7 separate regions of the Homo sapiens genome follow, and regions 2, 3, 4, 5, 6 and 7 are each linked to region 1. Evidence: fine-mapped QTL for protein levels in blood plasma. Region 1 holds a variant in brackets. A gene starts in each other region. All regions are shown on their reverse strands.

The links. PIP is the posterior inclusion probability: the model's chance that the variant is causal. Protein levels are from antibody-based Olink assays in UK Biobank. Linkage for the fine-mapping came from a reference panel and not from the study's own genotypes, which makes the PIPs less certain.
Region 2: it holds the start of CCL13, and the variant in region 1 is fine-mapped to the plasma level of the CCL13 protein (UK Biobank, PIP above 0.99).
Region 3: it holds the start of CCL2, and the variant in region 1 is fine-mapped to the plasma level of the CCL2 protein (UK Biobank, PIP above 0.99).
Region 4: CCL8 starts here. The variant in region 1 is fine-mapped to the plasma level of the CCL8 protein (UK Biobank, PIP above 0.99).
Region 5: it holds the start of CXCL6, and the variant in region 1 is fine-mapped to the plasma level of the CXCL6 protein (UK Biobank, PIP above 0.99).
Region 6: CCL7 starts here. The variant in region 1 is fine-mapped to the plasma level of the CCL7 protein (UK Biobank, PIP above 0.99).
Region 7: CCL26 starts here. The variant in region 1 is fine-mapped to the plasma level of the CCL26 protein (UK Biobank, PIP above 0.99).

The regions. Positions count from the first base shown.
Region 1 is chr1:159,203,944-159,208,092 of GRCh38, reverse strand. It overlaps ACKR1 (atypical chemokine receptor 1 (Duffy blood group)), which reads right to left and starts at 3,218. Exons shown (of 2, transcript NM_002036.4): 1 at 3,113-3,218; 2 at 1,593-2,632. The coding sequence starts at 3,133. The coding sequence ends at 1,643. The variant C/T (reference allele first, on the strand shown) is at 2,529.
Region 2 is chr17:34,354,480-34,358,628 of GRCh38, reverse strand. It overlaps CCL13 (C-C motif chemokine ligand 13), which reads right to left and starts at 2,149. Exons shown (of 3, transcript NM_005408.3): 1 at 2,027-2,149; 2 at 1,040-1,154; 3 at 19-603. The coding sequence starts at 2,102. The coding sequence ends at 498.
Region 3 is chr17:34,253,043-34,257,042 of GRCh38, reverse strand. It overlaps CCL2 (C-C motif chemokine ligand 2), which reads right to left and starts at 1,758. Exons shown (of 3, transcript NM_002982.4): 1 at 1,618-1,758; 2 at 704-821; 3 at 1-321. The coding sequence starts at 1,693. The coding sequence ends at 216. RefSeq lists enhancers at 1,087-2,061, 2,062-3,036, 3,980-4,000.
Region 4 is chr17:34,317,134-34,321,133 of GRCh38, reverse strand. It overlaps CCL8 (C-C motif chemokine ligand 8), which reads right to left and starts at 1,699. Exons shown (of 3, transcript NM_005623.3): 1 at 1,557-1,699; 2 at 748-865; 3 at 1-332. The coding sequence starts at 1,632. The coding sequence ends at 227.
Region 5 is chr4:73,834,349-73,838,348 of GRCh38, reverse strand. It overlaps CXCL6 (C-X-C motif chemokine ligand 6), which reads right to left and starts at 1,671. Exons shown (of 4, transcript NM_002993.4): 1 at 1,490-1,671; 2 at 1,253-1,385; 3 at 1,063-1,146; 4 at 1-726. The coding sequence starts at 1,598. The coding sequence ends at 708. RefSeq lists a silencer at 1,403-1,697.
Region 6 is chr17:34,268,677-34,272,676 of GRCh38, reverse strand. It overlaps CCL7 (C-C motif chemokine ligand 7), which reads right to left and starts at 2,456. Exons shown (of 3, transcript NM_006273.4): 1 at 2,311-2,456; 2 at 1,414-1,531; 3 at 435-980. The coding sequence starts at 2,386. The coding sequence ends at 875.
Region 7 is chr7:75,769,868-75,774,016 of GRCh38, reverse strand. CCL26 (C-C motif chemokine ligand 26) reads left to right here and starts at 1,806. Exons shown (of 3, transcript NM_001371938.1): 1 at 1,806-1,913; 2 at 2,014-2,128. The coding sequence starts at 1,841. RefSeq lists a silencer at 992-1,286.

The DNA of each region.
Region 1 (4,149 bases):
TCTCCCTTCCTTTCTGTTTCAGAATGTCTCCCGCGTCTCAATCGGTCCCTAAATCCCGCCTTTCAATTGAGGACGAACCAATCAGGAGCTAACCTGGTGGTTGCTAAGAGACAGGAGGTGGGAGATTTAGAGGCCTTGTCGTGGCACCCACCCAGGAAAATTCCCTAAGCCTTTTGCACCCTCCTGCCTAAGCTATTCTAACTCATCTCTGCACCTCTCCCGCACTCGCCTACTATTCCCAAGCCCAGAGAGTCAAGCAGAAACATTTTAGTAAAGAAACCAGGTATAGCATATCTTTGGAAAATGGTAAGATGGTAATTGGGTTCAAACTGATAGAACGTATCTGCTCAAGTTTCCCCAGCCTTTAGTTGGGTTAGAGGTAGGAACTAACTGTTTTGTAGCCTCTTGGGTAGAGGGTGAATTTGCTCTTGGTGGTAAAAGCTGTGCCCCTGATGAGGAGGGGTTTCTGTCCTTCCAGCCATCTAAACTTGGGTAGGTAGAGACTGAGAAAAATCTCAAAGGTCATGATTAAGCAGCCAGAGAATCAGGGGTTGGGAAAAAGGTGCCCAGGGGATTGGGGTATTGTGTGGAAGGTGGAAGGAAAGATGTATGTGGGAAATAAAGGTTTATTTCAAAAGCTGAGATTCTGAAAGGGAAATTCGGGGAATTCCAAGCAGAAGATGAATCAAATCAGGGCCTCCCCCTTCAAGTTTCTCCACCCTTCACAACTTCTTGATCTTTTCTTCCCTCCACACATCCTACACAGAAAAGACTAGGCTTAAAAACCAGGGTAAAGAAAACTCATTTGGGTAAGGAGTGAGTCATAAATCCCGATTCTATATCCTGTGAACAGGGATGAGTGCAGAATTGAGTGGGGGTTTGGGTCCTGAGAAAAGTCAGTGCACACGCACAGGTGTGCGCAGTTCAGGTGCTGACAGAGATGCAAGCTCATGGGTGGACATATGTTTTTACATGCATACATCTAACATAAAGGTAGATTCTAACAGATCGAGAAACAGATGTGTACACACACACACACACACACACGCACGCACATTCAGGTCATGCTGAGGAACCTGGGAGAGATGACTCCCAGGAAGTGGCTTTTTAAATTACCTTGATATGTTCCCTGAACTGAGTAACATCCCCTGGGATGCTTCTTTCACCTTCCCCACCACTGTCCTAATCACTAAACAAAGCCAGAGAGGAGACAGAAGACAGAGGCTGGGCAGGTTGGACAGGGGGAGGTGGTATTGCTCTGGGCTTTGTCATCACTCTTCACTGTTTATCTCTCAGTTTGAGTTCCTATTCCATTTGCTTCCCAGAACAGCTTTTTTTCCAGCTAAGCCATCCCTTCTGTTTTTTTTGGTTTAATGACTCCCCTCATGCTCTGGTTCCTCTTCTCTTCTCCCTTGAGATGGCCGTGACCCCACACCTCAAGAGAACATCTGTGTACCCTGAGGGTATTTATTCATCATTCACCTTCTTCCCAAGCCAGCTATAGAAGCAGACACTGGCAAGAAAGTCTGACATAAAAATGTCTCTCTCTCCATTCTCCTTCTTCTCCCCAGACAAAATAAGAAACCACCCGCTTCACAAAGGCAGTGTAGACTTTAATTCAGGTTGACAGGTGGGAAGAGAACTAGGATTTGCTTCCAAGGGTGTCCAGATGAGAAGACCATCCTTCAGGGAGGGGCAGAGAGGGCAAGAGGGTGCGGGTGGCCTGGTGGCAGAATAGGGCGAGGAGCAGGGGCGTAGCCACACAGTGCAAAATTGCCAGGGCTTCTGCCAGGTTCAGCAGCAGGTCCAGAGCCTGCTGGGCCAGACATGTTGACAACAGCAACAGCTTGGACCTCACCAGGAAATCCAGTCCTAGAACCACCCCATGAGGCCACCAGAAAATAAACCAGGCCCACAGGATATTCATCCAGGGGCCTGGCCCCATACCCAATGCCTTCTTCAGCCCCTTGGCTCCAAACAAACCCAATGGCAACAAGACAAAGATGGCAAGACAGGCTACAGTGTGTGTGGCCTGCAAAGCCTTCAGCTCCGTGCTGTATATCAGGGTGCAGAGTCCACCAGAAGCACCACTGGCCAGGGTGACAGGCAGTGTCAGTAGGGCAGCCACTCCCCAAATTCCCACAGTGAGCCCCAGGGTGAGGCCTGGGACCTGGCCTGCACCCAGTCTGTGGCCCAGGGAGGCATGGCACCCTAGCAGCAAAGCCTGGGCAAAGGCTGAGCCATACCAGACACAGTAGCCCAGGCTACACAGGGCAGAGCTGCGAGTGCTACCTAGCCCTGGGGCCAAGACGGGCACCACAATGCTGAAGAGGGCACTGCCCACAGCCAGCTGTGCCAGGACAGGCCAGCCAGGGCAGAGCTGCCAGCGGAAGAGAGGTCTGAAAAGCATGAAGAGGACAGTGCTGCTAGCTAGGATACCCAGGACACTGGTGAGGATGAAGAAGGGCAGTGCAGAGTCATCCAGCAGGTTACAGGAGTGGCAGGGGGCAGCTGCTTCCAGGTTGGCA[C/T]CATAGTCTCCATCTGGGAAGGAATCATTCACACCATAGGAAGAATTCCATACATCTTCGAAGTCCAGCTGACTTGAGTTCTCAGTTGAGGGGGAGAGCTCCGCCTGGAGGACATACCCAGAGGAGGCCATCAGAGTTACACCGGAAGAGTCTCCTGGGAATTGAGGGGCAGGTGGGAGGGGAGGACAGAGAGGAAGGTCGGGTGGGAGAACAAGGTCTCTGCAGGAGTCAGATGCAGTGCGGACAGTGGAAAAGGACAAAGCAGGGAGCCTGAAGAGCCGGAGCAGGAACAGTCCTGGGGAAGCCAGGGCAGCTGGGGCTGGAGGAGCAGTGCAAGGTCAGAAGGAAAAGGCACCAAGAGACCAGGATGGAACTGACTCAAAGGCAAAGGGAGGGACACAAGAGGGAGCTAGGAGGCTAGCATAGGAAGGAGAGAAGGAAAAAGACTTTGAAGGAAGAGGAAAAAAGCAGGAAGGGAGAAAAGATGAGGAGGAAAAGGAAGAGATATAAAGACTGAGGGGCAAACAGCAGGGGAAATGAGGGGCATAGGGATAAGGGACTCTGGGGCCTGGCCCCATACTCACCCTGTGCAGACAGTTCCCCATGGCACCGTTTGGTTCAGGCCCGCAGACAGAAGGGCTGGGACGGCTGTCAGCGCCTGTGCTTCCAAGATAAGAGCCAAGGACTAATGAGGGCCATCAGGTTCTGGGCAGGGACAGGGGGCATCAGGAAGCCTTACCCCACGCCCACTGCCTGCACAAGCCTCAGGCCTATGGGGGTCACTGGCCTTGGGTCTTCCTGTTTTGAGGTTGGATTTGGCTGGTTGGGACTACACTCAGGAAAAAGGTGGGGACCAGAAAGTGGGCATTTTACCGAAGTGGAAAGGGAGATTGAGAAAACAGGGGGCTTTCCAGCAAGTAGAGATTTTACCGAAGTGGAAAGGGAGATTGAGAAAACAGGGGGCTTTCCAGCAAGGAGAGATTCTTCAAGCACAAGGAAGGAAGAGAGGGGGGCTGGGTGACTTGTGAGGCAGAGATAAGGGAGGTGCTGGGAAATTGGAGTGGAAGGGCGGCTGACTCTCACTGCTCCTCCATCCCCTTGAACTGGATCCAAGGAAAGGCAGTTCAAAAGCCATGTGTTTGGGAGAAAGGTGGTGGTGGTCAACTCTGTCCCAACTGAGGGGTGTGTGCACGTGGGCGTGAGCTCTTTGTGTGTACTGAACTCTGTGTACGTTTGCTGTGTATCATTGTGCACATATCTGTATGTGAGGGGCTTGGCGGGTGTCTGGGTGTGTCTAGCTATCTCTAGGTCTGGGTGTTTCAGTGTGAGAGTGGGAGGGTTGGGGTGGCTGTCGAGGCTGCATAATGAAGCCATTTCAGGGAGCTATTGGGTGTTTGCCTAGCCACCTATGGGCTCAGTGCATGCCTCTTGCATATGAAGTGGAATACATGGTCTGACAAGTTAAAGTAGGCTCTAGGGGACAATGGGACAGCATATTTTAAAATGGGACCATTGCCCACAGGGTGATTTCTATTCATATTTCTACTGGGGGACATAAAGTCTCTGGAACTGTTTCATTGGCCAGGCATCTTAGCAATATGTAAAGTTTCTCACTGAGGGG
Region 2 (4,149 bases), not on the chromosome of region 1:
GAAGAAAACACCACTGTGTAGGAGATTTTAAATAAAATGTATTTTCTGCAAAATGTCAGCAGTCCTACTATTGCATTCATCTTTCCACAATAACATATTTAGCAACACCTCACATTCACAAAGAGCTCTCCTTCCTACATTGCAGCATCCCTTCATGTCCATGACTCCCACAGGCATGCTCTCAACCCCTGGGAACCGAATACAAACCCACTGCCAGCAGCTCATAGTGGAAGGGAAGGGGGCTTAGAGACAGCAACCTACTTGCTCAAGGCCTTGCTTTAGAAAAGATCAGCAATACTCAAATAAACTCCAAACCAGCAACAAGTCAAATAATAGCCAATATTACTTAACACATAGTACATTTTGAATCACAAAACCGAATGCATCCTATTTGAAAATTATGGTAGAAGTATTCCAAAGCATAGAAGAGGAGGCCAGAGGAGAATGGAAAAGTCATTTCACGTACTCCAGCTTGATTTCAGTAGGGGTAGCAGAGTTCAAGTCTTCAGGGTGTGAGCTTTCCGGCCCAGGTGTTTCATATAATTCTGGACCCACTTCTCCTTTGGGTCAGCACAGATCTCCTTGCCCAGTTTGGTTCTGAAGCTGTGGAGGAAGGAGATCTGGCACAGTTAGATGGAACCCTTTGAGGGTTTACCCAGGAGATGACACACTGGGTTCTAAACCTGCCTGGTCCACCTACTACAGGTGAAGGGGCACCCCTCCAGGACAGGAAGTAGGAGGTGTGTGGACAGAAGGGGTCTCTGGAGGCAGCCACTGCTCTTGCTGCCCCTGGGAAACTGATCCTGGCATCTGCTAAAGGGTGTGGGCTGGTGCCCATCCAGGAAACAAGGTGTGGGAAATTATAGGTCCTCTTTGGACCTGTTGTGCAGCCAAAATTGGAGGATTTGCATCACACAGTCTGGCTAGATCTCATCCTAAGATCTCAAGTCAGTCTGACGTCTGTCTCCTGGGGCAGAACTTTGGATTGGGGAATGTGGGAGTGGGGAGGAGCCAGGTGAGCAGGGATTTTTCTACCCACATGACAGCCTTCTGGGGACACCTGCTGGTGGTGATCACATAGCTCTTCAGCCTCTGCAAGGAGATCTTCTTACTGCTAAATGTGAAGCAGCAAGTAGATGGGACGTTGAGTGCATCTAGAAATAGTTACAAAGAAAAAGACTTTGAGGATGTGTTAGGCTTTTCTCAGCTTGAATACAGCAGGGAGCATCTGTATGGGATGCAAAGCAAAGAGGAAGAAATAGATCTTACTCACCCCCAAGCCCAGCACTCCCACCCTAGACCCTGAGGTGAGGTGGGACCTGTGACATGTGCCTCAGGATCTCAAAGGCTCAGCTGCATGGTGGAGACATGTCACAGCCATCTAGGGGAGGCCACGGGCAAGGCCAGTGGGAAAGGTCCTGGGTGTGGTCCCAGATCTGCAGAGTTTGGGACGATCAGATGAGGTCAAAGAAAAGGCCCTAAATCTGGAGTCAGAAGCTTAGGTTTCATTCTTGCTCTGCAATAACCTGGAGGTGGATGGCTAGGGTCCCTTCTGCCTCCAACATGGGCTTCAGCTTTCTATCTTTAAAATTAGATGTTAAAGTGAACCTCTGAGGAGCCTTACTATTCTGGTGGGCTTAGAAGTGGGGCACTTGGCTGGGCCTGGTGGCTCACGCCTGTAATCCCAGCACTTTGGGAGGCCGAGACGGGAGGATCACTTGAGGTCAAGAGTTTGAGACCAGCCTGGCCAACATAGTGAAACCCCTTCTCTACTAAAAATACAAAAATTAGCTGCACGTGATGGCGGGTGCCTGTAATCACAGCTACTCAGAAGGCTGAGGCAAGAGAATCGCTTGAACCTGGGAGGTGAAGGTTGCAATGAGCCAAGATCGCACCCCTGCACTTCAGCCTGGGCAACATAATGAGACTCAATCTAAAAAAAAAGTGGAGGAGCACTCGGGCTTAGGTCTTCCTTGAATAGAGAAACAGAGGGAAAGAGAGGGAGAGTCGAAGGGAGGTGACTTACCTGGCTGAGCAAGTCCCTGGGGGTTGAAAGCTGCTGTCATGAGCAGCAGGCACAGAAGCACTGCAGAGACTTTCATGTTGAAGGTTAAGAGTTGGAGATTTCACAATGTTTCTTTGCCTCTCTGCTCCTCTGGCTGTTCCGCCGGCCTTTTATAGGGAGTGGAGAAGCTTGGAACTCTCAGAGGACCTTGGCCTGAGCAGGGCGTTGACCAAGTCATGATGAAGGGGGATCCTGAATCTGCTGAGCTGGAGCTGGGCACCAAAGACTTTTCTAGGAAATGCAAGAGGGAAGCTGAGGGCTGAAACAGCATGGCATGGCTTCCTTCTGGCTGTTCAGGCCACAAGGAGCCAGAGAGGAGAAAGGGACACAGACGCGCCCCAGCCATTCACCATGGGAAGCCATAAAGGAGCTGTTTTCTTCTTACTTTCTCCAACAGGAAAGAGAAAAACAATGAAAATTAACTCCTGTAGAGAAAGAGTGCTGTGCTAAGGACTCTGTTCACGTTATATATTTAGTTTGAGGAGGTACATACCATTATTATCATGCCCATTTCATAGAAGAGGAAACGGATGCAGAGAGATTAAATAACTTGACCAAAATCTTATGGGAAATGAGAGGGAAAGCTAGAAGAGAAAGCTGGTCTGCTTATATTTTATCACCAAGGCAGTTTCAACTTTTGTTTAGCAGCAGAAGTCTTTTTCCAAGTCAACTTTTATGTGGAAGTCTAATATCTGAAACAGATTAAGTCAGATTTCTGATGACAGGGGCTCCTTACATTACATATTGTGTCCCCTTCTGCCCCTCAGGCCCAGAGGGACATGGTTCAAACACCTCTGATTGATGCAGGCCCCGTGTTTCCAGGAAGGACCATTGGGTTTCTAGAGCTGTTGATGGGAGGGCTGGGGTGGCCCTCAGAGCAAAGAAGTGAGGTGTTTGGCCCATTCCTGGGCTCCTCCTGCGAGGGGCACATATCTGGGAGCTGGGAGGTGGGGAGGGAATGGCTTAAAATGGTTGAACATGTCCCTTTCCCACTCATCCCTAGCTCCAAGACTTGGCACAGTTTTTGTGCCTTCCTGGAATACTCATCCCTCTGCATTCCACTATAGCAAAATAAGCCCAGTGAAAGTAAAGGGAAGAAATAAAGAGCTAGGATTAGAGAAATAGGAAACAGTAAATATTAGAAAGGATAGATGAAGCCCAAAGCTGGTTCTGTAGCCTATAATTAAGCTAAAACTCTCCTGAACTGAAAATGAAAAAAAAAAGAAAAAAGGGGCTGAGGCGGGGGGATCACTTGAGGTCAAGAGTTCTAGAGCAGCCTGGACAACATGGTAAAACCCTGTCTTTACTAAAAAAAATACAAAAATTACCCAGGCATGGTGGCACATGCCTGTAATCCCAGCTACTTGGGAGGCTGAGGCAGGAGAATTGCTTGAACCTGGGAGGCCGAGGTTACAGTGAGCCAAGATTGCACCACTGCACCCCAGTCTGAGTGACAGAGTAGGACTCTGTCCCAGAAAAAAAAAAAAAGAAAAGAAAAAAGGAAAAAGGTACATATAACCAGTTGCAGAGCCTGCAGACACCAAAAAGAAAATGATAAGAACCTTATGCCAAAAATTTAGTTTAGAGGAAATGGATGAATTTCTTAAAAATCTAACTGACCAGGGTGCACAAATAAATAAAAAATAGAAAGTCATTCTAAAGCTATTAAAGAAATGGAATCAGGAATTGAAAATCTTCCCACAAAACATTCTCTGGGCTCAAAGGGCACAAACAGCTAATTCCTCCAAGCACTGAAGGAAGTGGTCATTTCAATCTTGTGCAATCTCTTCCAGAGAATATCAAAAGATTGTACACCACTCAATTCATTTTGAGACCTACCTAACTTTGACACAAAAATGTGTCAAGACTCACCTGAGAAAAGGATATTATAAGCTTGTCCCTTCAGACACACATTCCATTCTTTTCCATTCTATTCTCTGCCCTAGGAAGCCAATCTTGGTGGGTTACATCAGTGAGGTTGCTGACCTTCTAGCTTCTGACTGGGTTTAGGCACAAGGGAGCTTCTGAGGACATTAGAGCAGGGAGAAGAGTTAAGTTGAGGTTCTTCTCCTCTGTTGTCTCCC
Region 3 (4,000 bases), not on the chromosome of region 1:
AAAAGCAATTTCCCCAAGTCTCTGTATCTAAAAAACACTAGTACCATGAAAGATAAACTTAAAACATCAATAACTTAAATAAGAATTAACATTACTTAAGGCATAATGTTTCACATCAACAAACAAAATTCATTATAATAAAATAAAACAGGGTGTCTGGGGAAAGCTAGGGGAAAATAAGTTAGCTGCAGATTCTTGGGTTGTGGAGTGAGTGTTCAAGTCTTCGGAGTTTGGGTTTGCTTGTCCAGGTGGTCCATGGAATCCTGAACCCACTTCTGCTTGGGGTCAGCACAGATCTCCTTGGCCACAATGGTCTTGAAGCTGTGGGGAGGGAGGACAGAGTTAGATGAAGTTCCTTTGCAGTTTTGGTCTAGAAGTGCAGCCCATTCTGCACCAAAGGGCTGCCATGGGAGCTAGAGGAGGAACGCAGGTGGAAGGAGGGAACCCAGGGCAAACTGCTCCTATAGGTGTCCAGGTGGAGCCATCCTGACTTCAAGCTAAAGAAATTGGGGTGTTCTGAATAGGCACCCAGGTGGAGAGTGATGTTGGGGTTCACTTTTTCCCTTGGTGCCTCAGTTTTCCCATTGGGAACCTTTGTACATTAAGTTAAATAGTGCACTCTCTGACTCTAGGTTTATGAGGCTTGTCCCTTGCTCCACAAGGAAGAACTTCAGGCCAGGGAAGGTTGGTGTGCTGAACTCACATCACAGCTTCTTTGGGACACTTGCTGCTGGTGATTCTTCTATAGCTCGCGAGCCTCTGCACTGAGATCTTCCTATTGGTGAAGTTATAACAGCAGGTGACTGGGGCATTGATTGCATCTGGAAAATAAACCACAAAGAAAAAGCATTTTAGGATGAACTGGATTATTCTGATCTTAAGAGCAGAAAAGAGTCATGAGGAAAAAGCAAAAGGCAGGCAGGAGAAGACAAAGAGCTCATTAAATCCCAGTGCTTCTGCCTATACCTCAGAGCTAGAATGTGATCTTTGACCCAATGACTCAGTTTCCTATGCTGTAAAATGGGTATATAACATTGATAATGGACAGAGAGAAGGAGGAGCTGTTAAAGCTAGATAATGCCTACAAGTGTCATTAAGACGGACCAATAATCCAGATGATCAGCACCAGGGAAGATCAGCTGGGGAGCCCCACTATGAGCCTCCTTTTAGACTCTGAATAGGCTATGCCTGGTCATGAGTTTCCCTGATACTCATTACCTCTGCAGAGTCACCGTCTCTGGAAGCTAAGGTGAATGAAGCACAGACCAGATTCTGGGTCTCCAGCGTGTCTGGAAACAGCCTACACACCCACCCTCTCTTTGATTACCCTGATCCCCAAACTCTGCTGGAAGCAGCTGGGGGAGTAACTGCGCTGAGTGTGTTCCCAGAGCTGGAATCCTGGAAGGAGCTGGATTTGGGGTTCACAGCTGGAATTCTAGTTCAGGCTCTGCCGAGCAGCAGCTGTGTGGTTGGGCTCACCCCTTGTCCTTTTCTGAGTCACCTTATCTTGGAAAAGTAGCGTTAAAGCAAGACTGTGGGTACCACGTCTGCTTGGATGGTCCATGATAACTCAGAGAGAAGACAATGTGGTTCAAGGAGAAGAAGAGGGGGCCTTACCTGGCTGAGCGAGCCCTTGGGGAATGAAGGTGGCTGCTATGAGCAGCAGGCACAGAAGGGCGGCAGAGACTTTCATGCTGGAGGCGAGAGTGCGAGCTTCAGTTTGAGAATTGGATGTTTCTGGGTTAGTCTCAGCCTCTCGGTTCCTCTGGCTGCTGTCTCTGCCTCTTATTGAAAGCGGGCAGAGGGAGAGAGGGCGGAGTCAAGCAGGAGGAGGGATCTTCCATGAGTGATAAGTGGGCTGTTAAATCTGCTGAGCAAATGCAGCATCCTGTGGATTTCCAGGAAGTAGGAAAGGGAAGCAGGGGGTCAGGACGAGACACTTTTTCCATTCACTGCTGAGACCAAATGAGCAAATGGGGAGGATGGGGTGCCATTAAGCCCAGACTGACCACAGATGTGAACTAAGAGGGTTATTTTTAAGGATTCTGCTTTCTCTGAAGCGAAAACTGCAGAAAAGGAAGGAAGCGAGGAAACTAGATGAAAGCATGTCAGGCTCGCTGCCAGCTTACCTTCAGGCCACATTCCAAGGGGCCTCCCAGCCAGGAAGGAGCTCTCAAGCTTTGGCCGGCTCCCTGACAATGCATTAAATCCATTTGCTCATTCAAATGCAGAATAGTAGCATCATAGAAGCCTAGCAGAACTGTAGGATTGTGTAAACATTGAACTGAATTCTAAGAGTTCTAGGGTTTCAGACTTGGACAAAGGCATAGACAGCATGTAGTGCTGCAGAAGAAATGCCAGTGTCATACTCACAGAGTGCTTACTCTGCCAGGAATATTCTCAGACCTTTACAAATATTAACTCTGTAAATTCCCCAACTTTATCTAGTAGGGATTGCTAATTTTCATGTTATAGATCAGGCAACTGAGGCACAGAAGGGTTAAATAGCCTGCTCAAGGTCCCCTCGAGCACAGAACCCAGGCAGCCCTGTCCCCAGTGGGCTGCCACCTCTCTGACATACTGCTGGAAGGAAACGTGTACAAGTCCTCCAACTAGTTGCCTGCTTGGGTCCTCTCTCTGTCCTCAGCATCTTCCAAATGGGCAGACAGCTAAAGGAGAATCTAGAAACATTCCTCATGGCTAAGTCATTATGAGTTAGGAGGCTGTTGCTAGCATAGCAGGCAGCAGTGGACAAGAAGTTCATCCCTGGTTATGGCAGCTATTCTCCTGGCTTCCTTCTTAATTTCCAAGGGACATGAGTAAGCAGTGGAGGAGTATTTCGGGAATTGGAAAGCCTGACTTCATTCCTCAGTTGTGCCTTAGATTTCCTCAGAAACTACAGAAGCACACTGATAAAAACCCAAAGACCTTAGAATTCATTTCAGTGAACTGTTGTCTCTTACAAATATGATAGGAGTACTTGAGGCATGTTAATGGCTGGGCTGAGTTTAAAATTCTGATCTCTCGATTCTCCTAGCCCACTGCCTCCTCCTTCTGAGCCTTGCGGTGCCCTTGCCCAATGGGCATACAAAGACTAGTGACTTCTTTCATAAAGGGTCACTGAGGCAATGTCTATAAATGCATGGGGTTTCTTGAAAGAAAACACTTTTCACTACACTTGTAAAAAGAAACGGGTTGTATTCAACAAATGACTGTTTTATTTCTAGTAAGTGGTCAGTAATGGCATTGTTGAGTGCATTCAGGGAGTCAGGTATGGTGCTGACATACTTTCCAGCGCTGCCTGCCCAGTCCTCCAACCAACCCAGCTTTCGTTAGGTTAAAACTGAAGTTATTTGTCCAGTAACTCAGACAGAATAGTAGATGTGCTGAGACTCCCACCCAGGATGTTTCCATTCCAGAATCTCTTCTTCCTGGGACTAGACTTGATGTCTCATGATGGATATTGGTTTCCTGGAGAATCCCAGAGCAGAGACTCTATGGAGTGGCCATTTCAGACTCTGGTGGAATTACAAAAAGCAGGATGAAGAGAGAACAAATCAACTCGAGCCCTGCTTTGCTTGTGCCTCTTGAGGAGCCTTATTCTTGTTCTGCCTGAATCTCACTAGTTACTCCTTTTCTCCCCAACCAGTGTTGAAACTTCTCTGTGTTTGTCTCAGTCCTCTGCTCATGCCTCAATCCATTCTTATCCAATGAATAAAATGTTTCCAGGACTAGAGACTGTGCAACTTTGTGTAGGAATTTCTTCCTAGGCCATCTCACCTCATCTTCCAAGAAGTTTTCCTCATATCAGGGGAAACCTCTCTCTAATCAGTTAGTGCATCCTTTACCATGAACTTGGTGGACCGCATTCAATTTCCCTTTATAATCCAGTCATGCTTCGGGTTTTCTCTAGGTTAACAAGCTGAAAGATGCTGAGATCTTTAAATAAGTCTCTCCTGGCTTAGTCATATCAGCATCACTCATAGAATCCCAGAATCAA
Region 4 (4,000 bases), not on the chromosome of region 1:
AGGATTTTGCATTTTACATTCACTAGGATGTATGACAGATAGAGTTAAAACATCAACAACTTAAATATAATTAAATACTTTTTAAGAAATATTATGCTTTAAATTATTTAAAAATAATCTCTTTGTGGATGTTATAATAAAATAATGTCACACTGCACCTGGGGGAGGTTGGGGAAAATAAATAAGCTTTTCTTCAAGCTCTGACTCTCAGTCCATGTATGAAGGCTCATGGCTTCAGATTTTGAAATATTTGGTCCAGATGCTTCATGGAATCCCTGACCCATCTCTCCTTGGGGTCAGCACAGACCTCCTTGCCCCGTTTGGTCTTGAAGCTGTGGGGGAGAGAGGGCACAATTAGATGGAAGACTTTGAAGATCCTGCACAGGACTGTGGGCCATTGGTCCCTAGAACTGATCAGCCCTTGGTCCTTAGGTGAAGGACCCGGACCCGGGAGAGGAGGGAGGGGAAGAGTGGGAGGAAGAAGCTCCAGAAGGAAGCTCTGCTCTTGCTGTCCAGGTGAAACCCTCCAGGGTCCTGGCTACAGATATTGGGTTAGTTTCACCAAGCCCCTAGAAGGGAATCCTAGAGCAGTTATGGACTCCTTCTCATGGACTGAGTTTCTCTATGGGGTAGAGGGGCCCTTTGGATAGAAGTTATATGCATCCGACTCATATGGACATGAATCTTGACTTCTCTATGTTGTCCATCAGAACTTTTGAATGGGGGTGCCAGGCACTGTCCACTCACATCACAGCTTCCTTGGGACATTGGATGTTGGTGATTCTTGTGTAGCTCTCCAGCCTCTGGATAGGAATTTTCCTATTGATCACGTTAAAGCAGCAGGTGATTGGAATGGAAACTGAATCTGAAAGAAATTTTGCAAAGAATGAGACATTTAGGACCCACCGTAAGTGTGCATTTGTAAGGAAAAGAAGAGAAGGAAGGAGAAGACCAAGAAGTCACCATCCCAAGTTCAGTGTCTTAGTCCAGATCCCAGAGATAAAATGTTGCCTGTGAGTCTCTTTCCTCTATTGAACTCTGCGGCCCGTCATTGTTGACTGGGTTTGGAAACATTTTGAGTAACAAGCTAGTCCTTGTCTACTAACCCAAAACTTCTGACACTGGGAACATAAGTTCCAATACCTTGCTTCCCAGTCTTTCATCCTCATGGGCTTTAGAGTTAGCCTATGCCATACGCTGAGATTCCTCTGGGTCCTCATCCTCTTTACACAGCCACTGTTCTGGAAGGTACACTGAACCATAACCAAAATTTGAAGCTTCAGGCAATAGTTTCTCCCTCTCCACTACGGCCTGAAATGTCCTTTACACCCACAGTGAGAAACAGTTCTTCGTTCTGGATTATTTCCCCAAACAATGGGAGGGTTGTTGCTGTAGCGGCTCCACTGTCTCCTCCCAAAACTGGGGTCAGGAAAGATCAAGGGAACCAGCCTCAGTGACCTGAGCCTTTAGTTCTGGTTTTGTTCCTAATGAGCTGTGACATAATGGCTCTTCTTAATTCCTCTTTTGGTCTCCCCTTAAAAAGGGAGAGGTCTTACCTGGCTGAGCAAGTCCCTGAGGGCTGAAAGTGGCTGCCATGAGCAGCAGGCACAGAAGCGCTGCAGAAACCTTCATCTTGGAGGGCAAGGGTGTGAGCTTCAGCATGAGAGGTGAAGGTTTCTGGGTTGTTCTCAACCTCTCTGCTCCTCGGTGGCTCTGCCTGCCTTTTATAGGGAGCAGAGAGCCTGGGCATGGTCACAATCAAGGAAGAATGAAGTAAGACCTTCCTTGAATATGCTGAGTAAGCACCAGATCCTGGGATAATTTCCAGATAACAAAACAAGGAAGTTGTGAGTTTCTATCTTTTGCTTAGGCTCTGTGGAGCAGAGGCTGAAGGGTATGGGATTGTGCTCAGCAAAGTGACCTCACTGAACTATTAAGGGCTCTGATTTCCTTGAAATGGAAAATTGTCTATAAGAAAGGAAGAATGGAAGCTGACGTCATAGTGGAAGAGAGCCAAGGGCCTACCCCTCTGTGGGTAACAGGAGGCCAGGGATGGGCCCTAAGGCTTTGCTGGTGCTCTCCATCACACTAGAGTCACTTGCAGTTCTAAGCCAGGCAAGCTCCTTTAGAACCCCAGCCACAGAACGTTGGCAGAATGACAGAATCCTGGAACTAAGTCTTAATGCCCCAGAATCTTACTGTTGCAGAGGGTAAGAACTAGACAGCACATGCTGGTCTTGTAGCATGGTGGTTTCCAAACATTTTATTTAGATGCTCAAGTTTCTTTCCAAATGAAATTATATGGAGAAGTCCAATATGTCATGGAGATTCAGGTGGAATGGGTCCGTCTGCAGAAGGCCTTCCAACTCTCTTGGTTCACACACAGTGGGGCTGTGGGCGGGGCGTGGCAAGAAGGAACCAGGTTTGCAAAAGACTGACCTCATCTACTCCCCCTGCAGGCCTGATCTATCCATCATTACAATATCATATAGAAGTTTTCCTGCTCTAAGAATTCACTGTATTCTTCTATTCATCCTTTTTCCTCTCCACAAATCTCTGGCTACCACTGATCTTTTTACTATCTCTGTGAGCTTGTCTTTTCCCAAGTATCATATGCATAGTTGGAATCATATAGTAGGCAGCCTTTTCAGACTGGCTTCTTTCACTAAGCAATATGCATTTAAGGTTTCTCCGTGCCTTGTTGTGGTTTGATAGCTAATTACTTCCTTTGTTCTTTATTCATTTATTATTTTTATTGTGGTAAAAATGCACATACCATCTTAACCATTTTTAAGTGCATAGTTTAGTGGCATTAAGAACATTCACACTGTTGTGCAACAGTCTCAATAACTCTTTTCATCTGTAAACAGAAATTCTATACCTATTGATCTCCAGTTTCCCCTCCCCCAAGCCCCTGGCAACCACCATTTCTACTTACTGTTTCTGATTTTGACTGCTCTAACTACCTCATGTGAGTGAAATCATATAGTATTTTTCTTTTGTGACTGGCTTATGTCATTTAGCGTAAGGATCTCAGGGTTCATCTATGTGGCAGCATATGATATGCTACATATCCTTAAGGCTGAGTAATATTCCCTTGTATGTATATAGTACATTTTATGTATCCATTCATCTGTTGAGGGCTCTCTATTCTGTTCCATTGATCCATTTGTCTATTCTTTCACCAATACCACACCGTCTTGATTACTGTTTCCTAATAGTAAATCTTGAAGTTGGGTAATGTTAGTCCTCTGACTATTCTTTTTCAGTACTGTGTTAGCTATTCTAGATCTTTAACCTTTCCATATAAACATTAAAATCAGTCTATCACATCCAAAAAGAACCTGCTGGGATTTGGACTGGGATTGTGTTGAAGGTACAGATCAAGTTGGGAAGAACTGACATGCTGACAACATTAACTCCACCTATCCATACATGTGGAATATCTCTTCATTTATTTAGATCGTCTTTAATCTTTCATCAGAAGTTTGTAGTTTCCCTCATATATATTGTACATCTTAGACTAATTTCTAAACACTTCATTTTATTGGTGTTAATGTAAATAGTATTGTGTATTAATTTCAAATTCTAGTTGCTCATTGCTGATATACAGGAAGTTATTGAATTTTATCTATTAGCCTTGTATCCTGTAGCTAAAATTGCTTATTAGTGGCATGACTTTTTTTTGTTGCTGATTCTCTGTAATTTTCTACACAGACAATCATGTCTTCTGCAAATAAATTCAGTTTTATTTATTCTTTCTAATCTGTATATATTTTTATTTTCTTGTCTTGTGCTGTTGTGTTGGCTAGGCCTTCCAGTATTATGTTGAATTGGAGTGGTGAGAAGAAACATCCTTGCCTTATACTCAATCTTAGGAGAAAAATATCTAGTTTCTCACCATTAAGTATGATATTTGCTGTAGGTCTTTTTTAATGCACTCTATAAAGCTGAGGAAGTATCCCTCTATTCCTAGTTTGCTGAGAGTTTTTTTTTTTAA
Region 5 (4,000 bases), not on the chromosome of region 1:
TAGCATACAAAATCAAAGTTTAATGAGTAAATCATGACATTATGCCATACTAAGAAGACATCAAACGTCTAAAACCATAGGAAGAGAATATATTAGCCCTTACAGAACTTAAATTTTTAGAAATTCTGAATAAGGAAATATATTCTGCACAGATAACGGTATGACACACCCAGTGTTCTAATACAGTACAACTTAAATAGCATCCTAGGGTAAAGAGTAACATATTCCCCAAGAAACAGAACTAAAATATTTCCTATTTTATGAGAAGAGTGAGTAAGAACAACAGGATACCTCCCTCAACAGCACACTAATAAAACATTATTTCCATACGAAATCCACAGCCTTTTCGGTAAGACTTTAAGGAATGTATGATAGAAATACAATAGTTATCTTCAATTCAATATTCATTGAAAGACTAATAACCAGTGATTCTTTGCTCACAATATGGTCAATTGCCAAAGGGTTCAATAACTTATCAGGTAAAATAACAGTAAATAGTGGAAATACTATATTAGTACTTCATTAGCTGAGCTGTAAACTTCAGGGAGAAGCGTAGGCTTTCCCCCACACTCTTCAAAGTAGGGAATCCATGTAGAAAATGGAAAAAAACCAACCCTTCCTTCTTATTCTTACTGGGTCCAGGGATCTCCAGAAAACTGCTCCGCTGAAGACTGGGCAATTTTATGATGCATGGTCTTTTTTGTTACTCAGTTTTTCTTGTTTCCACTGTTGAGAAAAGAGTTATATTAGTATAACCAATTCCCACACTCTTGTATGCTACATTTGGTTTTCAAAAGCGTTTGGTGGGGGAAAAAAATCAATAAAAGCAAAGAGCAGACAAAAAATAGATGTCAGTAATGAGCTCTGTGTAATTGTTCAGGCATGTAAGATTGGTGATAAAGGTTTACCCAGAACATTCCAGAAAAAAAGTTTCCTTATTCTTCTTAACAACCTTATAATTCTAAGCATAGTCTAAATCCTACAGAGAGAATAAGGACATTGTGAAGTATATGCTTTCCATAGAAGATATTAAAACACCACAAAGATCAAAGGGACAAATACCTGTCCAAAATTTTCTGGATGACTTTCTTTAGAAAAGGGGCTTCCGGGTCCAGACAAACTTGCTTCCCGTTCTTCAGGGAGGCTCTGAAGTAAAGAAAAAGAGGATGCACCCATGAGCCACAAAGGTTGACGACCCAGGCTGGAGGACTTGCCTAAGTCACAGTGGACACAGCAACACAGGAGAACTTACACCACTTCCACCTTGGAGCACTGCGGGCCTGCGGGGAACACCTGCAGTTTACCAATCGTTTTGGGGTTTACTCTCAGCGTAACGCGTAAACAAGTGCAACGCAGCTCTGTCAGCACAGCAGAGACAGGACCAGCTGGGGAAGAAAGACATTTTTATAGGGCAGGTTGCTGGGAGAGTTCCCTGGAACGCAGCGGCCCCGCAGAGGCTGGGATGCACCCCAGTGCCAGGAGCTCTCACCGCTGGCGAGGGGCCCCGGCGGCGTCAGCAGGAGCAGCAGCGCGAGCAGCGCGCACAAGGAGCCCGAAGGACCCGGGACACGGGCCGCGCGGCTGGACGGGAGGCTCATAGTGGTCAAGAGAGGGTTCGCGGGTTCCTGAGCTGGGTGGAGGCGCGGAGACTGGAGGATACAGAGCACTTTGGTTTCCTCGTGCCTTCTGCACTCCCTTTATCTGCATTCATCCCTCCCGACTGGCAGGAAACTCAAGCTTTGGGATGCTGGGGAAATTCCCTGAACTCAGGGGGCAGTGTGGAAAGAAGGGGTTGGTGGAGGGGGGCGGGAGGATGGGAATTGGTGGGGTGGGTGGCTGGGAGGAGCTGCCTGCTCCCTTAAGGGGGAGGACATTTTAGCCCCGCCCCGCGGTGGAGGGAGCTGTGGCTCCAGCCAAAATAGAGCAGCGATTCAGCAGGGTCTCATCCCCTGGGCTTGAGGGGTTAGCGAGGCTGGCTTCTCTGAGGCACGCAGCTGTCTGGGAGATGCTCCTCCTCTCCAATGGCCAGGACAATTAGGCAGGAGAAGGAAATAAAGGGTATTCAATTAGGAAAAGAGGAAGTCAAATTGTCCCTATTTGCAAATTACATAATTGTATATCTAGAAAACCCCATGGTCTCAGCCCAAAATCTCCTTAAGCTGATAAGCAACTTCAGCAAAGTCTCAGGATACAAAATCAATGCACAAAAATCACAAGCATTCTTATACACCAATAACAAACAAACAGAGACATGGTCTCAGCCCAAAATCTCCTTAAGCTGATAAGCAACTTCAGCAAAGTCTCAGGATACAAAATCAATGCACAAAAATCACAAGCATTCTTATACACCAATAACAAACAAACAGAGAGCCAAATCATGAGTGAACTCCCATTCACAATTGCTTCAAAGAGAATAAAATACCTAGGAATCCAACTTACAAGGGACATGAAGGACCTCTTCAAGGAGAACTACAAACCACTGCTCAATGAAATAAAAGAGGATACAAACAAATGGAAGAATATTCCATGCTCATGGGTAGGAAAAATCAATATCGTGAATATGGCCATACTGCCCAAGGTAACTTATAGATTCAATACCATCCCCATCAAGCTACCAATGACTTTCTTCACAGAATTGGAAAAAACTACTTGAAAGTTCATATGGAACCAAAAAAGAGCCCGCATGGCCAAGTCAATCCTAAGCCAAAAGAACCAAGCTGGAGGCATCACGCTACCTGACTTCAAACTATACTACAAGGCTACAGTAACCAAAACAGCATGGTACTGGTACCAAAACAGAGATATAGATCAATGGAACAGAACAGAGCCCTCAGAAATAATGCCGCATATCTACAACTATCTGATCTTTGACAAACCTGAGAAAAACAAGCAATAGGGAAAGGATTCCCTATTTAATAAATGGTGCTGGGAAAACTGGCTAGCCATATGTAGAAAGCTGAAACTGGATCCCTTCCTTACACCTTATACAAAAATTAATTCAAGATGGATTAAAGACTTAAACGTTAGACCTGAAACCATAAAAACCCTAGAAGAAAACCTAGGCATTACCCATTCAGGACATAGGCATGGGCAAGGTCTTCATGTATAAAACACCAAAAGCAATGGCAACAAAAGCCAAAATTGACAAATGGGATCTAATTAAACTCAAGAGCTTCTGCACAGCAAAAGAAACTACCATCAGAGTGAACAGGCAACCTACAAAATGGGAGAAAATTTTCGCGACCTACTCATCTGACAAAGGGCTAATATCCAGAACCTACAATGAACTCAAACAAATTTACAACAAAAAAACAAACAACCCCATCAAAAAGTGGATGAAGGACATGAACAGACACTTCTCAAGACATTTATGCAGCCAAAAAACACATGAAACAATGCTCACCATCACTGGCCATCAGAGAAATGCAAATCAAAACCACAATGAGATACCATCTCACACCAGTTAGAATGGCAATCATTAAAAAGTCAGGAAACAACAGGTGCTGGAGAGGATGTGGAGAAATGGGAACACTTTTACACTGTTGGTGGGACTGTAAACTAGTTCAACCAGTGTGGAAGTCAGTGTGGCGATTCCTCAGGGATCTAGAACTACAAATACCATTTGACCCAGCCGTCCCATTACTGGGTATATACCCAAAGGACTATAAATCATGCTGCTATAAAGACACATGCACACGAATGTTTATTGCAGCACTATTCACAATAGCAAAGACTTGGAACCAACCCAAATGTCCAACAATGATAGACTGGATTAAGAAAATGTGGCACATATACACCATGGAATACTATGCAGCCATAAAAAAGGATGAGTTCATGTCCTTTGTAGGGACGTGGATGAAATTGGAAATCATCATTCTCAGTAAACTATCGCAAGGACAAAAAACCAAACACCGCATGTTCTCACTCATAGGTGGGAATTGAACAAGGAGAACACATGGACACAGGAAGGGGAACATCACACTCTGGGGACTGTTGTGGG
Region 6 (4,000 bases), not on the chromosome of region 1:
CCAAATCATCTGTTGGTCTCCTACTTGATTTTTTAATGAAAGTGACATTTGTATTTACTAGACTAGAGGATTGATTAGAAGGGGGAAAACCAGCCAGTCACAAGGCTGATAGAATAGAAGAGGGGACAGGCTTTTGGGTAGAGCGTGGGATGGTGAGAAAAAGAATGAGTTTGGGAAAAAAGAAAGGTATTTGAACAAGTGGCTGAAGCAGATGTCAGATCTGGAGCTGGGGGGTGGGTTCATCTGGCCCCAGCCTGTGGCTGCCTCTCCCTAACATGCAGGTGAGCCTGGCCTGGGGGAAAGCCCAGAGTCCATTACGCGCTCATTTCTCCACAATGTGAGCCCAACCTCTGCAACCACGCCCTTCACCTTGTCACCCTGTTACCCCCACCAGCTTTATTACTTTATCCTTTTAAAAAACCATGAATGGCAGCTGTTATACAAAAATCTATTTTATGTGAAAATTTGGGAGTCATACATATGCAAATATGTAATTATATAATAACAATATGCTTCCATAGGGACATCATATCTTAACAATTAAAGCAAATCTTTGCACTGATTCTTGCAAGGACTTATACAATACCCCCATGAGGTAGAGAAGGGAGGAGCATCCCACAGTTTTTACAGCACTGAGATGACATATACATCCAAGGCTTTATGTTCAAAACCCACCAAAATCCATGGAAGATTAAATTAAAATATTAATAACTTTTAAAATCTACTAAGAAAAACCATGATTCACATTATTACATAAAGCTCATATTCCTTAGAATTAGATTAAAATAATCTCAGAACCACTCTGAGAAAGGACAGGGTATACAAATTATTTGTTTCTCAAGTCATGGCTTGTTTTCAGTTCAGTCATGAATGTTCAAAGCTTTGGAGTTTGGGTTTTCTTGTCCAGGTGCTTCATAAAGTCCTGGACCCACTTCTGTGTGGGGTCAGCACAGATCTCCTTGTCCAGTTTGGTCTTGAAGCTGTGGAGCAGAAAGGAGACAGTCAGATGGAACACCTTGAGGGTTCAGCCTGGGAGTGTGACCAAGTCTATGGGAAATCTGTCTAGCCCATCAGCCTAGCTGATGGGGATGCCTCAGGGATGAAGGAAGAAGATAAAACAAAGGAAGGGGACTCAGAGAAGCAGCTCTTTTTGGTAGCCCAAGTGAATCTCTCTTGGTTCCAGGATGAAGGAACGAACTGAGATGTAAAATGATAGCTGGAAAGGGAGCTGAGAGTGAGAAGCCACTTTCTTTACTTGTATTGTTTCTCACTGGCAAATGTCTGGGATAAGGTTAGAGATGCTGTATGCATCACAGTATTTGACTCCAACTCATTCTGATACTAGTCCTATTCCCTGCCCAGGGAAGAACCTAGGACTGAGGTGTGAGGGGTGGGTGGTCATCGTCCACATACATTACAGCTTCCCGGGGACAGTGGCTACTGGTGGTCCTTCTGTAGCTCTCCAGCCTCTGCTTAGGGATTTTCTTATTGATAAATCTGTAGCAGCAGGTAGTTGAAGTATTAATCCCAACTGCAATGAAACAACAAGAAGAAAAGTCCATTGAGGGTGTGTCCTGGGTCTTTCTGTTTGTAAAACAGGGAATGGTAAGAAGAAGGAATCAGAAAGAAAGGAAGAGGTGGAGGGAAAAGCTGCCCATCCCAAACCCAATGTCTCTGCCCTTTGAGGCATTTCATAAACTCCCTTTCACTTTTATGGACTGTGAAATAGGGATGCACCATCACCAGTTGAAAGACGGAAGAGGAATTGATGGCTACTCTGGGCATTGCTAGGAGGGGCTAATATAATAATCCAATTCCTTAGAGCAAGGGTACCCCAACTATGGATCCCCTTTTAGGCTCTGAGCATTCAATGCTTGGTCATGAGTTTCCCTGATACGTACCACCTCTGCAGAGCTGCTGTTTCTGGAAGCTGGGCTTCCACAGACCAGATTCTGGGTCTCCCGGTATCTGGAAACAGCCCGCACACCCATCCCCAGAAGCCTCCTGTCTTTGATCACCCTGATCCCAAATTCTGCTGGAAGCAGCTGGAGTGGTAACTGCACTGAGGGTGTTCCCAGAGCTGGAATCCTAGAAGGAGCTGGATTTGGGGTTCACAGCTGGAATTCTAGTTCAGGCTCTACCCAACAGCAGCTGTGTGGTTGGGCTCACCCCTTATCCTTTTTCTAAGTTACCTTATCTTGGAAAAGTAGCTGTTAAAGTGAGACTGTGGGTATCAGGTCTTCTTGATTGGTCCAGGATAACCCAGAGAGGGGGCAATGTGCTTCAAGGAGAAGGAGAGAGGGACCTTACCTGGCTGAGCAAGCCCCTGGGGGCTGAAAGCAGCTGCTGTGAGCAGCAGACACAGAAGTGCTGCAGAGGCTTTCATGTTGGAGGGTGAGGGCATGGGCTTCCACATGAGAATTGGAGGTTTCTGGTTTGGTCTCAGCCCCTCTGCTCCTCTGGAAGCTCTGTCTCTGCCTTTTATAGGAAGCAGAGAGGATGAATCATAGAATGGAGTAATAAATCTATGGAGTAATAAATCTGCTGAGCCAGTGCACTTCAGTGGGAGGATAGGAAATGACAGTATGAGTCGAGGCTAGCCTGTTTTTCAGCTAAGACCAGGAGTGGTAGGTGAGGTAGGGTCTATGTAGAGGAAGACCACAGTATGTAATCTATGGCTATTATCAAGAGACCAGTTTCTCTGAAATGAGACACATTCTATAGAAAAAGGAAGGAATCAGGGATACCAAAGTCAAAGATATGTAAGGGATATTCCCCTTTTCCCTTTGGAGTGGTATCCCTAGGACACGAGTCCACAAAGAGACATTCAAACTTTGGTTCAACTCTACAAAGGACTCAAAGATTCTTCACTGTCTTAAATCCTGGTGGCTTTCTAAAACCCAGAGAAAAGTAAAATAATAGAACATTAGCAGAAAAATAAAATTCAATATTCTTAGAATAATAGTACCTAAAATTGTAGTGTCTATTTCAATAATCTATTGCTGCATAGCAATCTATCTGAAAACAGTGACTTAAAACAATAACAATCTTCTGGGTTTTTTTGCTCTTGACTATATCACAAGGCCTTCATTCAGTGTCTGGGGTCTGGGCTGGGAGGACTTCAACAGCCAGCAGTTGGACCAGATGGAATTTCTCAGGTGTCTCTCTCTCTCTCTGTATGTGTGTGTGTGTGTGTGTGTGTGTGTGTGTGTGTGTGATCTTTCCAGTGGTCCCTCCACATGGCTAGATATTTTGCATGATGGCTTAAGGATCCCAGGTGCAAGGTTAGGGAACATAGTCATACCTCTTAATGGGAAGAGTGTAAAATAATTTGAGGATATGTTTTAAAACCACTATTTGTTTTATAGGCTATCGGAACTGCACAGCATATCAAGATCTTAAAATACTGTGTTTCTAAAACATCTAATGAGCTGTGAAAATATTTTTCCAAGTAAAAGAATATAGGGAAGGCAAATTTATCGACAAAATCAGAGACCTTCAGTTTGAATCAGAGACAAGAGACTTCTTGTCATTCTTCCCACACACATATCTCAGAAATACAAAGAATAAATTTTGGAAACCACTAATCTAGCTCCTCATCTCACATACAACTAGCTCCTCATCTCACATACACATTACAAAATCACCAACTAATCGCCTTCCATATCAGTGAAAAGGGGTTTGATGAGAGACCATGGGTGGGGTCCTCATGCCTATAACTGGGCCATGGATCATGGACATGGAATGCAAAAAAGGAAAATTATTCAATGGGGGAATTGAGCATTATACAACTTTGAATATTAATTTGGGAGCAATGCAAGGCTTTGATTCTGGTTTTAGCTTTATGTCGTTTTATCTTACCCCTATGACTTTGCTCAGGCTACTCATTCTCTCGATTATCTCTTTTTCAAATTGTTTTTACTCCCAGCTCCAGAAATTGGTGAAGAGTTGGCCTACTTTCTATCTCCTTATTTATGGAGTCTTCCCAGCTCACTCTAAT
Region 7 (4,149 bases), not on the chromosome of region 1:
GGCTGAAGCCAGGTGTGGTGGCTCTCCCCTATAATCCCAGTGCTTTGGGAGGCTGGAGTAAGCAGATCGCCTTGAAGCCAGGAGTTTGAGACCAGCCTGGCAACCTTTGGGCTCTACAAATTTCTTTTTTTTTGTGACAGAGTTTTGCTCTTTTTTCTTAGGCTGGAGTGCAATGGCACGATCTTGGCTCACTGCAACCTCTGCCCCCCAGGTTCAAGTGACTCTCCTGCCTCAGCCTCCCAAGTTGCTCGGATTACAAGCATGAGCCACCACAAAATTAGCCCGGCTAATTTTTGTATTTTTAGTAGAGACGGGGTTTCACCATGTTCGCCAGGCTGATCTCAACCTCCTGACCTCAGACGATCCCCCTGCCTCTGCCTTCCAAAGTGCTGGGATTACAGGCGTGAGCCACTGTGACTGGCCCCACACACACACACAAAATAATAATAATAATTGACCAGGTATGGCCAGACGTGGTGGCTCACTGTAATCCCAACATTTTTGAAGGCCAAGGTGAGACAGTCACTTGAGCCAAGAGTTTAAGACCAACCTGGGCCACATAGAGAGACCTCATCTCTATTTTTTTTTCTTTTTTGAGACAGTCTTGGTCTGTCGCCCAGGCTGGAGTGCAATGGCGGGATCTCGGCTCACTGTAACCTCTGCCTCCTGCATTCAAGCGATTCTCCTGCCTCAGCCTCCCTAGTAGCTGGGATTACAGGTGCCCGCCACCGTGCCTGGCTAATTTTTTTATTTCTAGTGGGGACGGGGTTTCACCATGTTGACCAGGCCCTCTCTCTCACTATATATATATATTATTTGTTGTTGTTTGTTTGTTTTGTTTTGTTTTAAGCCTCGGGTGATTGTGATGATCTGTCAGGTTTGGGATCTGTTAGATCTCTCAAATGCCCCCAGCCAGCCCTGGCCCTACAGGTGTGGCCCCAAGAAGATGGGCTGGCACCTGCCTGGACCCTGTTTTTAAATATCCATTGTCGAGGTTGGGCTACTCTATGATCACATCTTGAGACCATCCAGAGCTCCACACAGAGATAAGCAATGCTTAGAAAGGAAACAAAACTTTGCCCAAGAGCCAGAAACCTATCTTCAACAACCAATTGTGCTATAAAGTAACTTAGTTCAGTTCACTGGAATATTACTTAATTTCCTCTGCTTTTTCTTTTTAAACAAGAAAGTGTTGACTCAGCCAACAGCACTGGGAACCAGACTCCCTGGGGCCTGCCTGCCCCTGCTCTTCTCCCAAATTCTCTTCTTTTTTTGTCCCTGTTGATGGAATTCAATAAAGGGATCTCTACCATCTGTCACTTGTTTTTTTTTGTTGTTTGTTTGTTTGTTTTTTTTTTTTTTGGCAGAGTCTCACTCTGTCGCCCAGGCTGCAGTGCAGTGGTGCCATCTCAGCTCACTGCAACCTCCACCTCCCAGGTTCAAGTGATTCTCCTGCCTCACCCTCAGGAGTAGCTGGGATTACAGTTGCCTGCCACCATGCCCGGCCAATTTTTGTGTTTTTAGTAGAGACAGGGTTTCTCCATGTTGGCCAGGCTGATCTTGAACTCCTGACCTCAAGGGATCCGCCCACCTCGGTCTCCCAGAGTGCTGTGATCACAGGCATGAGCCACCACGCCCAGTGCCAGATTATCTTTCTTCACTGTCTAATTTCATTCCTATGAGTATTAGTTTACTTTTCCTTTGTTGGGTCAAAAGTGCTGCTTCTGTTCCCAACCACAGAATTCTCTGGAATTGTTTTCAGGGCCGTCTCAGTCTCATAAAAGGGGATCAGGCAGGAGGAGTTTGGGAGAAACCTGAGAAGGGCCTGATTTGCAGCATCATGATGGGCCTCTCCTTGGCCTCTGCTGTGCTCCTGGCCTCCCTCCTGAGTCTCCACCTTGGAACTGCCACACGTACGTAGCTGGCCCATTCCCCTCCTGGGGTTCCTTCCCGGACCGCCTGGGAGTGGATGGAAATGAGTATCTCCAAACCCTTCCTCTCCCTGATTTTTAGGTGGGAGTGACATATCCAAGACCTGCTGCTTCCAATACAGCCACAAGCCCCTTCCCTGGACCTGGGTGCGAAGCTATGAATTCACCAGTAACAGCTGCTCCCAGCGGGCTGTGATGTGAGTATTTCTCGGACGTACTTTCTGGGGCCCCATCAGTCATGCAACAGGATGGGTGCTGGGCAGACCCCCAGGATGAGCCTTGGGATGGGAACCTGGAAACCCCACCTCTGCACACTAACAAGTGTGACTCTGAGCTTCAGGTAGAACCTGACTTTTTTTTTCTCTTTTTGAGACGGAGTTTCTTTCTTGTTGCCCAGGCTAGAGTGCAATGGCACGATCTTGGCTCACTGCAACCTCCCCCTCCCGGGTTCAAGCAATTTTCCTGCCTCAGCCTCCCAAGTAGCTGGAATTACAGGCACATGCCACCATGCTCAGCTAATTTTTGTGTTATTAGTAGAATTTCACCATGGTTGGCCAGGCTGGTCTTAAACTTCTGAGCTCATGTGATTTGCCCGCCTCAGCCTCCCAAAATGCTGGGATTACAAGTGTGAGTCACTGGACCCAGCCAATCCCCACTTTTAATAAACTCACAGTGAAGTAAGAGCTCAGGAATCATCAGCTATGATGAATAACCTTGAAAATGTGGCTAACAATTAAATGACATGTTGAGTGCAGGGTTCCTTTCTGGGGTGATGAAAATATCCTAAAATTGATTGTGGTGATGGTTGCATAATCTATGACTATACTAAAAACCATTGAATTATAATTATAGCCTTTAAATTGGTGGAGTTGTACATGGTGGGGAGGTTTAGACGATCGCTTGAGCCCAGGAGTTCAAGGCTGCAGTGAGGTATGATCGCACCACTGCACTCCAGCCTGGGTAACACAGAGAGACTTCATCCCTAACAAAAGAGAAAAAAAAGAGTGAATTACAGTTATCCCCCAGTAACCACAGGGGATTGGTGCCAGGATTTTGGCATACAATTTCCCCTGAATTTATGCAGCTTTTGCATCACCGAGTTTTGTATTTTCTATCCTCCTTTGGTTGGCAAAAGGCTGCCTATGAGTGGGCCCACAGAGTTCAAATCCGTGTTGTTCAAGAGTCAACTGTATGTGCCGTGTGAATTATATCCCAACAAAGCTGTTCTATTACAATGAAAGAATCAGCCAGGTGAGGTGGCGCAGGCCTGTAAGCCCAGTTACTCCGGAGGCTGAGGCAGGAGAATCGCTTGAACCCGGGAGGCGGAGTTTGCAGGAGTAGAGATCGCGCCACTGCACTCCAGCCTGGGTGACAAGAGAGAAACTGTTTCAAAAAAAATAAAATAGGCCGGGCGTGGTGGCTCACGCCTGTAATCCCAGCACTTTGGGAGGCTGAGGTGGGCAGATCTCCTGAGGTTGGGAGTTCGAGACCAGCCTGACCAACGTGGAGAAACCCTGTCTCTACTAAAAATACAAAATTAGCTGGACGTGGTGGCGCATGCCTGTAATCCCAGCTACTTGGGAGGCTGAGGCGGAAGAATCACTTGAACCTGGGAGGCAGAGGTTGTGGTGAGCCGAGATCGCGCCATTGCACTCCAGCCTGGGCAACAAGAGTGAAACTCCGTCTCAAAAAAAATAAAAAATAAAACAAAATAAAGGCTAGGCGTGGTGGCTCACACCTGTTATCCCAGCACTTTGGGAGGCCAACACAGGCGGATCACCTGAGGTCAGGAGTTCGAGACCACCCTGGCCAACATGGCAAAACCTTGTCTCTATTAAAAACACAGAAATTCGCTGGGTGTGCTGATGCGTGCCTATAATCCCAGCTACTTGGGAGTCTGAGGCAGGAGCATCACTTGAACCTGGGAAATGGAGGTTGCAATGAGCTGAGATCATGCCATTGCACTCCAATGTGGGCAACAGAGTGAGAGTTCGTCTCAAAAAAAAAAAAAAAAAATTAAGTGTCCTGGTGCAGGTTACATGCTGCAGGCTAGAACTGGTGGAAAACGGTAAATGGTACCTGGTAGAGGTGGGTCTGGAGGCATAGTTTCCAGTGGAAATCAAGATAGGAAAGAGGAGGGAGACAAGGCCCAGGAGAAGAGGGGACAGGGACAGAGAGCAACAAGTTTGTGGCAAGGCCAGAAGACTAGTGAGAGAGC